Linked DNA regions of Homo sapiens. The protein of the gene in region 2 purifies or fractionates together with the protein of the main gene of each other region. This does not show direct contact. Each region holds a gene or a part of one and is shown on either strand. Other genes may lie near its edges.

Evidence for each region.
Region 1: the proteins of POU5F1 (region 2) and IBTK purify together in Homo sapiens (affinity purification with mass spectrometry, with the first as the bait; one large-scale study listed by BioGRID). This does not show direct contact.
Region 3: the proteins of POU5F1 (region 2) and PDCD7 purify together in Homo sapiens (affinity purification with mass spectrometry, with the first as the bait; one large-scale study listed by BioGRID). This does not show direct contact.

The regions. Positions count from the first base shown.
Region 1 is NC_000006.12:82,169,400-82,172,183, reverse strand, and holds the end of IBTK (inhibitor of Bruton tyrosine kinase), read left to right. Parts: intron 1-627; coding exon 628-759; 3' UTR 760-2,197; downstream 2,198-2,784. UniProt on the Homo sapiens protein: Acts as an inhibitor of BTK tyrosine kinase activity, thereby playing a role in B-cell development. Down-regulates BTK kinase activity, leading to interference with BTK-mediated calcium mobilization and NF-kappa-B-driven transcription.
Region 2 is NC_000006.12:31,168,494-31,172,248, forward strand, and holds the start of POU5F1 (POU domain, class 5, transcription factor 1), read right to left. Parts: upstream 2,190-3,755; 5' UTR 2,128-2,189; coding exon 1,723-2,127; intron 1-1,722. UniProt on the Homo sapiens protein: Transcription factor that binds to the octamer motif (5'-ATTTGCAT-3'). Forms a trimeric complex with SOX2 or SOX15 on DNA and controls the expression of a number of genes involved in embryonic development such as YES1, FGF4, UTF1 and ZFP206.
Region 3 is NC_000015.10:65,120,319-65,123,938, forward strand, and holds part of PDCD7 (programmed cell death protein 7), read right to left. Parts: intron 1-3,620. UniProt on the Homo sapiens protein: Promotes apoptosis when overexpressed.

The DNA.
Region 1 (2,784 bases), about 51 Mb from region 2:
CTAATAAATTATGATAAAGCTTATATTTTTGCTTTGGTGATACTTTGGATTATTTTAGTTTTTTTAAAATGACCAGTAGAGAATTTGGCAGTATTCTCTAGTGCTGCACTTGGCTTCTGTATCAGTAAGAATTCTAAGATTGTAAGCAACAGAAGCCCACTCTGGCTAACTTAAGGAAAAGATAATTTATTTGAGGGATATTAAGATTCCATAGACTTAGCTGAAAGACCAGACAGCCAGGCTTGGAAACAGAAAAGACGCATAGTAGCACTGGAAAGCTCAGAAGCAAGATTTAGAAGACTTGTACAACAACAGAAAGTATCTCACAGAATAAAGCTATTGGAATGAATGAATTTTAGCAACCATTTTCAGTTTCTTTTTCCTTCTGCTCAAGATTCAAATTGAAGAGCGCATGGGTATCTCATGATTCTACCTCACACCTCAAGCTTTCTCCTTGCCACAGAGATAGCAGGATACCTGATTTAAAATGCAGGATACCTGATTTAATTTCACTGTATTGTATCCATGGAAAGTGATAGTTCCTCAAAAGGAAATTGGAAGGCAAATACATCCTGCTTAGTTTATAATTAAAAGAGTAAAGAGTCTTCTTTCCCTTCCTCCTTTCAGATTGAGGAGCATGCCATACAAGATTTATTGGTTTTCTATGAGGCATTTGGCAACCCTGAAGAGTTTGTCATTGTTGAAAGGACACCGCAGGGACCACTGGCAGTACCTATGTGGAATAAGCATGGATGCTAGTTCACTGTGGAGTTGAGATGCATTTTACATAATTATGAGTTTGTTCATATAAAGAAAAGCTGTGGAAAAGAGTCTTAGAGATTTTGTAATATCATTCTAAATAGATTAAGAAAAGATATAATTTCTTTACTGCAGTTAAATCATATAATGTTTGTATGATTAAAAATAAATTTCTCAGAATTGTGATTTTAGTAACTTTATATAAAATGTGTGAGACAAAAACTTATTAAGGTTAAATAGAATTGTTTCTTCTGAATAATCTAACAAAGGAAAATATAAGTGATTGAATCATAAGATATAAGGGGGGTAAAGTATTAAAAATAACTTTTTTGTTTGATAACTTGAGAATTTAGAAGATTTTGCCAAGTATGTGTTGTTGCTTGACTTCTTAAATATGGCATTGATGAATTTAAAGTAGGAGCATCAGTTATTACTTCTGATTCATTAATGGCCAGAATTTTGTGTTTGGTGTAATAGTTGTGTCACCATTCTTGTTGCTTTTTAAAAATCAGGCTAATCATGTGGTCCATGTCTCTTCAAAGCTTGACCTGCACAAATGCCATATTTCTATTTGGACCACATATTCTCCATTTTGCATTGAGCAGTAGAGTACAGTGGAAAGGGAATAAGAATACTGATTATTCTGAACAGTTTAGTCCCAAGAGAATAGCGTTTTAAAAAAGAAAAACAAGATTTGGAGTCATTGTGGGTTATTTTTGGTGGGATGGAGGATCTTAAAAATGCCTAATTGTGAGAGAATCAATTGCTGAAAGTGTTAAAATTTCTGAAAATAAATGCTTAATTACATATACAGGAATTAAATAGTTTGGAAGAGGGTTGGATTATCATTACCTTTACAATACTGTATAATCAGAAGTTCTCTGAACCTCAATTGTATATCTAGACATAAAAATTGTTTTCTGTATAGGATGTTGTTTGGTTTGTTTCTGAGTGTTTAAATTTTGCAAAAACAAATGTTAAATTTGTGCTTCAGTACCTAGATAAATTGGAAAGGTTAATGTTCTAGTTTCTGGAAGGTAAGCCTGGGAGACACATAAGCAATTCACTGCTATAATTTAGTTGATGTAAAATGACGGAAACTGACTCAATATGTCAGGTTTAACTCTGCCCAAAAGCAGCAGACATGTAAGCAGATGTGCAATAAAAAATGATCTTGATCCATTTCACTAATGTGTGCTTGACATTTTTTACTATATTGACATTTATTATGGAAAGAGTTAATAATTATTTTTTCTGATGTGCTACACTAGTGGCCAGTATATGGTTAAGTTGATGCTGTATTTATTCTAAGACGGATTTAAAAAGGCAGTTTTCTAAATATGAACTTGTGAATTTTTGTATGTGTGTTTGAGTAAATTGAGAAATGAATTTTATAAATGTTCTATTGATGTTGCAGTAAAGAAGCCTTTTGAAGTAATTGATTTCATTTGAAGCTTTGATTCTTCTGTATATGTTGACATCTTTAATATTTACAGATGCTGTAAAGTGATGATTTTCTTGCTGTCCTCCGTGCTGCCTGGGAAGCACTCTTGGGGGTCTTTGTTGGATGGGGTGTGAAAGAGGGGCAAGAGCTGAACCGCATCTGTGAGGCTTTAGGCAGTTACAAACTACAACCAGAGCAGTTGCACTTTATGGTCTGTTTTATGTAGTGAGGTATTATATATAATTTTATTGGGAAAAAAGGAGTTCTTTTGCTAGTAAAGTTAAAGAGAAACACTGTCATAAACTGTATTTCTTCATAAATAATTCCATGAAGATAGCTATCTGACACATTGCTGTCAAAAAGCCCAGGAAAGTGATAAGGGTTTTCTTTCTCCCCTAACAAAATAACATTATTCTGCTACAGTATTCATCTCTAATTCCATAACCTCAAAAAGACCTGATAGAATTGAATAAATACTGGAAATGACAAATTTAAAATATCAGTGGGATAGAGAGATCTTTAAGATTTATGAAAACAATTACAGAACTCTTTTTTTTTTTTTTTAATTGAGGCACAATCTC
Region 2 (3,755 bases):
CAAAGTGCCTGGCCACACCTTTTAAAACACTGACTCTAGTTGACGTGTTGGCCACAGACAGTAGGGAGGAAGCAGTATAATTTGAGAAGCTACTGCGGTAATCCCAGCAGAGATGATGGTGGCTGAGGCCAGGGTTAGGTTGTGATTGATTCAGGATGTTTCTTAAGGATAGGATGTAGGACATGAAAGAAACTGAGGATGACTGGGTTTGGCCTTGAGCAACTGGGTGATCAGGGTGGAGCAGTTCAGGGAGCCATCACAAGAGACAGAAAACGCGGTAGTCATCTGGTGTCTAAATGGCATTTAAGCCTTGAGGGTGGGTGAGAGGAAGGAAGGGTAGATAGAGCAGAGGTTGAAGGACTGAGCCCTGGGGCATGCCATATGAGGCTGCCGGCAGACAGAGGTGCACAGCTAGTGAGAAAAAAACAAGGCCTTTTTGTAGTTCTGAAGCCTCAAGGAAGTGTTTCAATGGTGCTTGATCATATCAATTTCAAATAGGCTGTTTTCATCCCCAACTTCTGCTCAGCCAATAACTCAAACTGATAAATGCCCTCTGCTATCTTGGATTTTCCAAATTCTGTTTTGGGGTTTTGGAATAAACACTGGTCCAAATCCTCGCTTCATCATTTAGCAGTTAAAACCCGTTAAATAGGATAATAATACCTCCCCCTAGGAGATTTTGTGCTGGTTAATGAGATAATGATGTATAAACGGAGCACACAGCCAGGCACTTAGGAAGTGGACCACAATTGCCAGCCATTATCATTCAAGGCTCAGCAGTGACCTCCTGCGAAGAGGTTGGGGCTTCTCGGTCACTCCAGAAACCAGTCACACCTTTCTGTGAGGTCTCAAGGCTTAGTATTTAATCTCTAATTGCTTACACTTGTCGCCTTGAAGGACTGGAAGATACATCTTTAATAGTCCTCAGCAGGGCTGGATGCCTTCAATCCCGCAGCAGCTCTATATTTGCAAATGGCCTGGAGAAATCTCTCACCATTTTTCTTGTTTACAACTTTGGAACTGAGGCTGAAGTCAATCAAAATCCAGCTTTCTACAAGGGGTGCCAGGGTGTGCACCTTAACACAGTGGCCAGTCATTGGCCTGAGGCAGAGATCCGGGGAAGACAAGCCCTATACTTGACTGGAGGTAAACCCAGCTCACAACGCGCACACACACAGCCCAAACAGGAGATCCTATCAGAAACGAGTCACACCCTAGACTTTCAGGAACAATAATCCTGGAATGAGCACTGTTTTTACCCTCAGGCTATGCTTAACCCTAAGGCCAAAATCTTGGGTCTGATAAGGGTCAAATTTTCAAGCAGGACTAAGGGTGGGAAAAGGGGCTCAAACCAACCCCAAGCTGGGTCTGGTGCTGGGCCAGTAATGAGTGACCAGACCCTGGGCAGGCCTAGGAGATGTGAGAGACCCTGACAAGGGCTGGGCCAGAGCAAAGGCCAGCCTGGGCCAGCTTCCGACTCTCCCAGGCTGCTCTGCCCTCACCGGCAGTTGTCTCTTCGAAATCCAGCTTCCACTTCCCACCTGGCCCCTGCCTGCCAGGGCTGCCAGCAGTTGATACACACCCCTCCCTGGCCAGGGCAGCTGACCCTGCCTGCTCCTCTCCTGGGTGCCAGGTCTGGGCAGCTGCAGGTGACCACTTCCCCATCAGGCTGCCCTGTCATGACCACCTCCCCACACCCCAACCCCGTCGAAGCTCACTTGCCTCCTCCGGGTTTTGCTCCAGCTTCTCCTTCTCCAGCTTCACGGCACCAGGGGTGACGGTGCAGGGCTCCGGGGAGGCCCCATCGGAGTTGCTCTCCACCCCGACTCCTGCTTCGCCCTCAGGCTGAGAGGTCTCCAAGCCGCCTTGGGGCACTAGCCCCACTCCAACCTGGGGCCCACAGTACGCCATCCCCCCACAGAACTCATACGGCGGGGGGCATGGGGGAATCCCCCACACCTCAGAGCCTGGCCCAACCCCCGGCCCGATTCCTGGCCCTCCAGGAGGGCCTTGGAAGCTTAGCCAGGTCCGAGGATCAACCCAGCCCGGCTCCGGCCCCCCTGGCCCATCACCTCCACCACCTGGAGGGGGCGAGAAGGCGAAATCCGAAGCCAGGTGTCCCGCCATGGGGAAGGAAGGCGCCCCAAGCCGGGGGCCTGGTGAAATGAGGGCTTGCGAAGGGACTACTCAACCCCTCTCTCCCTCCCCAGTCCCACCCACTAGCCTTGACCTCTGGCCCCGCCCCCTGGATGGGTGGAGGAGAGGGAGGTGGGGGGAGAAACTGAGGCGAAGGATGTTTGCCTAATGGTGGTGGCAATGGTGTCTGTGGAAGGGGAAAACCGGGAGACACAACTGGCGCCCCTCCAGGACCTCAGTGCAGGTCCCCCACAGAAACTTTTTTTATTTTTATTTTTTAAGACAGGGTCTCACTTTGTTGCCCAGACTGGAGTGCAGTGGAGTACAATGATGGCTCAATGTAGCCTCGATCTACTGGGCCAAAGCAATCCTTCTGCTCCAGCCTCCTAAGTGGCTGGGACTACAGGCTTGGACCACTGTGCCCTGTTAGTTTTTTTATTTTTAGTAGAGATGGGGCCTTGCTATGTTACCCAGGCTGGTCTTGAATTCCTGTCCTCAAGAAATCCTCCCGCCTCTGCCGCCCAGTGTCATGATTAAAGGCGTGAGCCACCACACCCAACTTTCAACTCCCAACCCGCTCCCTGGCACTCTCTCAGGCTCTGCACATCCCAGCTGTCTGGAATCACTCCCACACCTCCATGTTCTTCAGGAACCCAGGTGCTTGACCCCCTCTCCACAGACCTCTGGCACTGTGCCTTCAGGGGCCAGTCACCCTCTCAGCTCCTCAAATTTATTGAATGTGTGTGTGGCGCTATCCCTCAATGCATCAACAGCCATAAGCACAATGGCCAGCTGCTCCCTTATGCCTTCCCCCGATCCATCCAGAATCCTAGGCATTCCCATCCCGATACTGGCCAAATCCAGCCACCCCGCAGCCTGGGTGCCTGGCACCATCTGCCCAGCCTGCCAAATTTCACCCCATCTTCAAGAGTAGACTGCCAGACAAGGCCTCCGTGCTATATCCCCCCACCCCCCCATCCCCCCACCCCTCCGTCTTCCAGAATCAGACTCCAGACTCTCCTCATCTAACAGACTAAGGGGTTGGTCCCTACTTCCCCTTCAAGGGACCAGACTTTGGACTGACTGGGCCTCAGTTTCCCAACCTTTGCTGAAACAGAGTGATAAGACACCCGCTTTGGGCCCCCTCCACTATGGAACCTGCACATCAGGTTCCTTGCTCCCCTCTCAACCAAAACTCAGACATCTAATACCACGGTAGGCCCCGTTCTCCCTCCCCCACCTCCCTGGCCCAGGCCTCCAGCCCTAGGCCCTGGGTGGGGAAAACCAGGGGGTGGGGGGTGTGGAGAAAAAATATCTGACTTCAGGTTCAAAGAAGCCTGGGAGGGACTGGGGGAAGGGGGCAGGACAATGGCCTTGGCTGGACAATCCCGGTCCCCAGAGGGGGCAGCTCTAACCCTAAACAAGTGCTCAACCCTTGAATGGGCCTGGATGGCTCCCCTGGGGACTGCTTCCTGCTCCCCAACCCCCCAGTCCCAATCCCCTCACACAGAATCCCCTTCAGAGACGCTAAAAGGAGCTCCAGCAACCCCCCTCTGCAATCCCCTCAAAGACTGAGCCTCAGACGGGCACCAAGGGCCCCCCACAGGGACCTAGGTATC
Region 3 (3,620 bases), on a different chromosome or scaffold from region 2:
TTTTTTTTTTATTTTTGTAGAGACAGGGTATCCCTGTGTTTCTCAAGCTGGTCTTAAACTCCTGGTCAAGCAATCCCCCTGCCTTGGCCTCCCTAAGTGCTGGGATTACAGGCATGAGCCACTGTGCCTGGCCCTACCTACTAATTTGTAAATTTTTTGTATGAGGTCTCACGAGGTCAGGAGATTGAGAACATCCTGGCTAACACGGTGAAACCCCGTCTCTACTAAAAATACAAAAAATTAGCCAGGCATGGTGGCAGGTACCTGTAGTCCCAGCTACTCGGGAGGCTGAGACAGGAGAATGGCGTGAACCTGGGAGGTGGAGCTTGCAGTGAGCGGAGATCACACCACTGCACTCCAGCCTGGGCAACAGAGTGAGACTCCGTCTCCAAAAAAAAAGACCAAAACTTTTTTGTATGAGGTCTTGCTATGTTGCCCAGGCTAATCTCTAACTCCTGGCCTCAAGCAATCCTACCAGCTTGGCTTCCCAAAGTGAGCCACTGCATCCAGCCCAAATGGCCTTTTACACACGTTTTCTTATCCCAAAATTTGTGTTATAATGAGGAAGTTTAAAAGTCCTAGCTATAGTATGTATCGGTTAAAATTTAGAAATTTTACCCAATCTTTTAAGGCTCAATTTGATGTTTCTGAGTATTCAATTACTCTGACCCTACCCTGACTTTCTCAACTCCTCCCTCTGGATCATCCACACCACTTAACCTCTGACTTTCTTTCTTTTTTTTTTTTTTTTTTTGAGATGGAGTTTCATTCTTGTTGCCCAGGCTGGAGGGCAATGGTGCGATCTCAGCTCACTGCAAACTCCACGCATCCCGGGTTCAAGCGATTCTCCTGACTCAGCCTCCTGAGTAGCTGGGATTACAGGCATGCACCAACACACCCGGCTAATTTTTGTATTTTTAGTAGATGTTTCTCCATGTTGGTCAGGCTGGTCTCGAACTCCTGACCTCAGGTGATCCACCCACCTTGGCCTCCCAAAGTGCTGGGATTACAGGCGTGAACCACCATACCTGGCTTCGACTTTGTTTATTTCTAATGGTCTTGATCCTCCACTTGAAACAGTGAGCTCACTAAAGGGAGGAACTTGTCTTAACTTCATTGTTTGTGAAATTCCCTTAGCATCAACTCCCAGATCTAATTAATAAACAATTCTTCCTCTGACTGAGTGTGAATTTTGGGAGTGCACACTTGGATGGTGAGGAAGATACACTTAAAACAACCACACTGACCTTGCAGTCTGCTGCTGACAGTAGGCTGACCAACTGTTTTGGTTTGCCTGCATGTAGCACTGAAAGCCCCAAGTCCCAGTAAAACTGGGATGGTTATTATCCTGATTTAACTATGAGGTCAGCTAACAGTATAGCCAACATATCTAAAGCCACAGTGGAGAAAATAGTCAGGTTATTAGGTGATATCAAAGAATTACTGCTAATTTTTTTGGTGTGACAATGGTATCATAGTTGATGATGAGTGTTTATGTATTCTATTTTTGTGCATGTGTGAAATGTTTCATAAAGTTTCATAAGAAAAAAAGATTTTAACTTAATGAATATTTGAGTGGACTGCAATTGTGCACTCACTACCATAATGGCCCTGTAATACAAAAGCTTCCAGGTGAATCAATGTAGAGTGATGTGGATGTGATCTATCCTGTCAGTCCTTGAAGATTTTAAAGGAAAATATGTTACCCAAGCATTTTAGCAATACCAGATACAGGGCCAAGCGTGGTGGCTCACACCTGTAAACCTAGCACTTTGGGAGACTGAGGCAGGCAGGTTGCCTGAGCTCAGGAGTTCAAGACCAGCCTGGCCAACATGGTGAAACCCCATATCCACTAAAAATACAAAAAATTAGCCGAGCATGGTGGCGTGCGCCTGTAGTTCCAACTACTCAGGAGGCTAAGCCAGGAGAATCGCTTGAACCCAGGAGGTGGAGGCTGCAGTGAGCCAAGATCATGCCACTGCACTCTGGCTTGGGTGACAGAGCAAGACTCTTATCTCCAAAAAAATAAATTTAAAAAAAAAGAATACCAGATACAAGAAAGAAAAAAAAAATCCTAATCCCATTACCATAATCAACCATTTTATACTTTCTCACATTCTCTTCAGGTCTTTTTGTCCATGTATTAGCAACTTCATATAGTTCAACGTTACATGTATGTAATTTCCACTTCTCCCTGTTGATTCTGTACGTTCTTCTCCAATCTTCATAATTATTTAATGGCTGTATCCTATTTCATCAAATCAATACACTAGAATATACTTATCAAGTTCCCTACTCCTGGACACCTAAGCTATTCCAAATGTCCTGTTATTATATTGTGATACAATGAATATTCTTGGGCATGTTACTTTTTTCCTTCCTAGGGATTTCTATCAGAAAAATTCTTGGCCGGGCAGGGTGGCTCCTGTAATTCCAACACTTTGGGAGGCTGAGACGGGTGGATCACGAGGTCAGGAGTTTGAGACCAGCCTGGCCAACATGGTGAAACCCTGTCTCTACTAAAAATACAAAAATTAGCCGGGCGTGGTGGCAGGTGCCTGTAATCCCAGCTACTCAGGAGGCTGAGGCAGGAGAATCGCTTGAAACCAGAAAGCGGGGCTTACAGTGAGCCGAGATCGCACCACGGCACTCCAGCCTGGGCAACAAGAGTGAAACTCTGTCTCAAAAAAAAAAAAAGAAAGAAAAATTCTCAAAAATGGAAATGTTTGTGAATACTTTCAAGACTAACAAACTGTGTTCTAAACTGCTTCCTAAAAAAGCTATATATTTGCTCAGTTACCAAACACTTGACACAGAGAAGGTAATTAATAGATACTTCTTCAATGAATGAATGATTTTCAACAAGGTTTTTTTGTTTGTTTTGTTTTGAGACGGAGTCTCGCTCTGTCACCAGGCTGGAGTACAGTGGCGCGATCTCACCTCACTGTAACCTCTGATTCCTGGGTTCAAGCGATTCTCCTGCCTCAGCCTCCCGAGTAGCTGGGATTACAGGCATGTGCCACCATTCCCAGCTAATTTCTGTATTTTTAGTAGAGACAGTGTTTCACCATGTTGGCCAGGATAATCTTGATCTCCTGACCTCATGATCCTCCCACCTCGGCCTCCCAAAGTGCTGGGATTACAGGCATGAGCCACCATGCCCGGCCCTTCAACAGGGTTTTAACAATTTATGCTGCAACTTGTGTTATACAATAGTGCCAGCTTTGAGCACTAAATTTTCAGTTTGGGCTGATAAATGGCATAAATAATGGTTTCTCAAGGTTAGTAGTTCTGTTTCTTGTAAAGTTGTAATTTGGAGGTAGGATTCTTTCCTCCTTCAACCACTACAGCTAAGTGGTTGTGGAACTCACTCTCAAGGCTAACATTTCTCTAGATGATTTTCTCCTAACTGCTTTGCTTCTACAGGTTTCCATTCACTCATTCTCAACTACAGAAACACTACAACTCAAATTTATCTTCTACTAAGTTGCCAGGCCAGTGTTTTTCAAGTATACACAAAATTCTTATACACTGACAAATTTAAGCTGTCACTCTGTTTTATAATAATCTAACGGTTTTGTTTCATTTCTTTACCTTTACAGGTAAATATTTTAGATTTT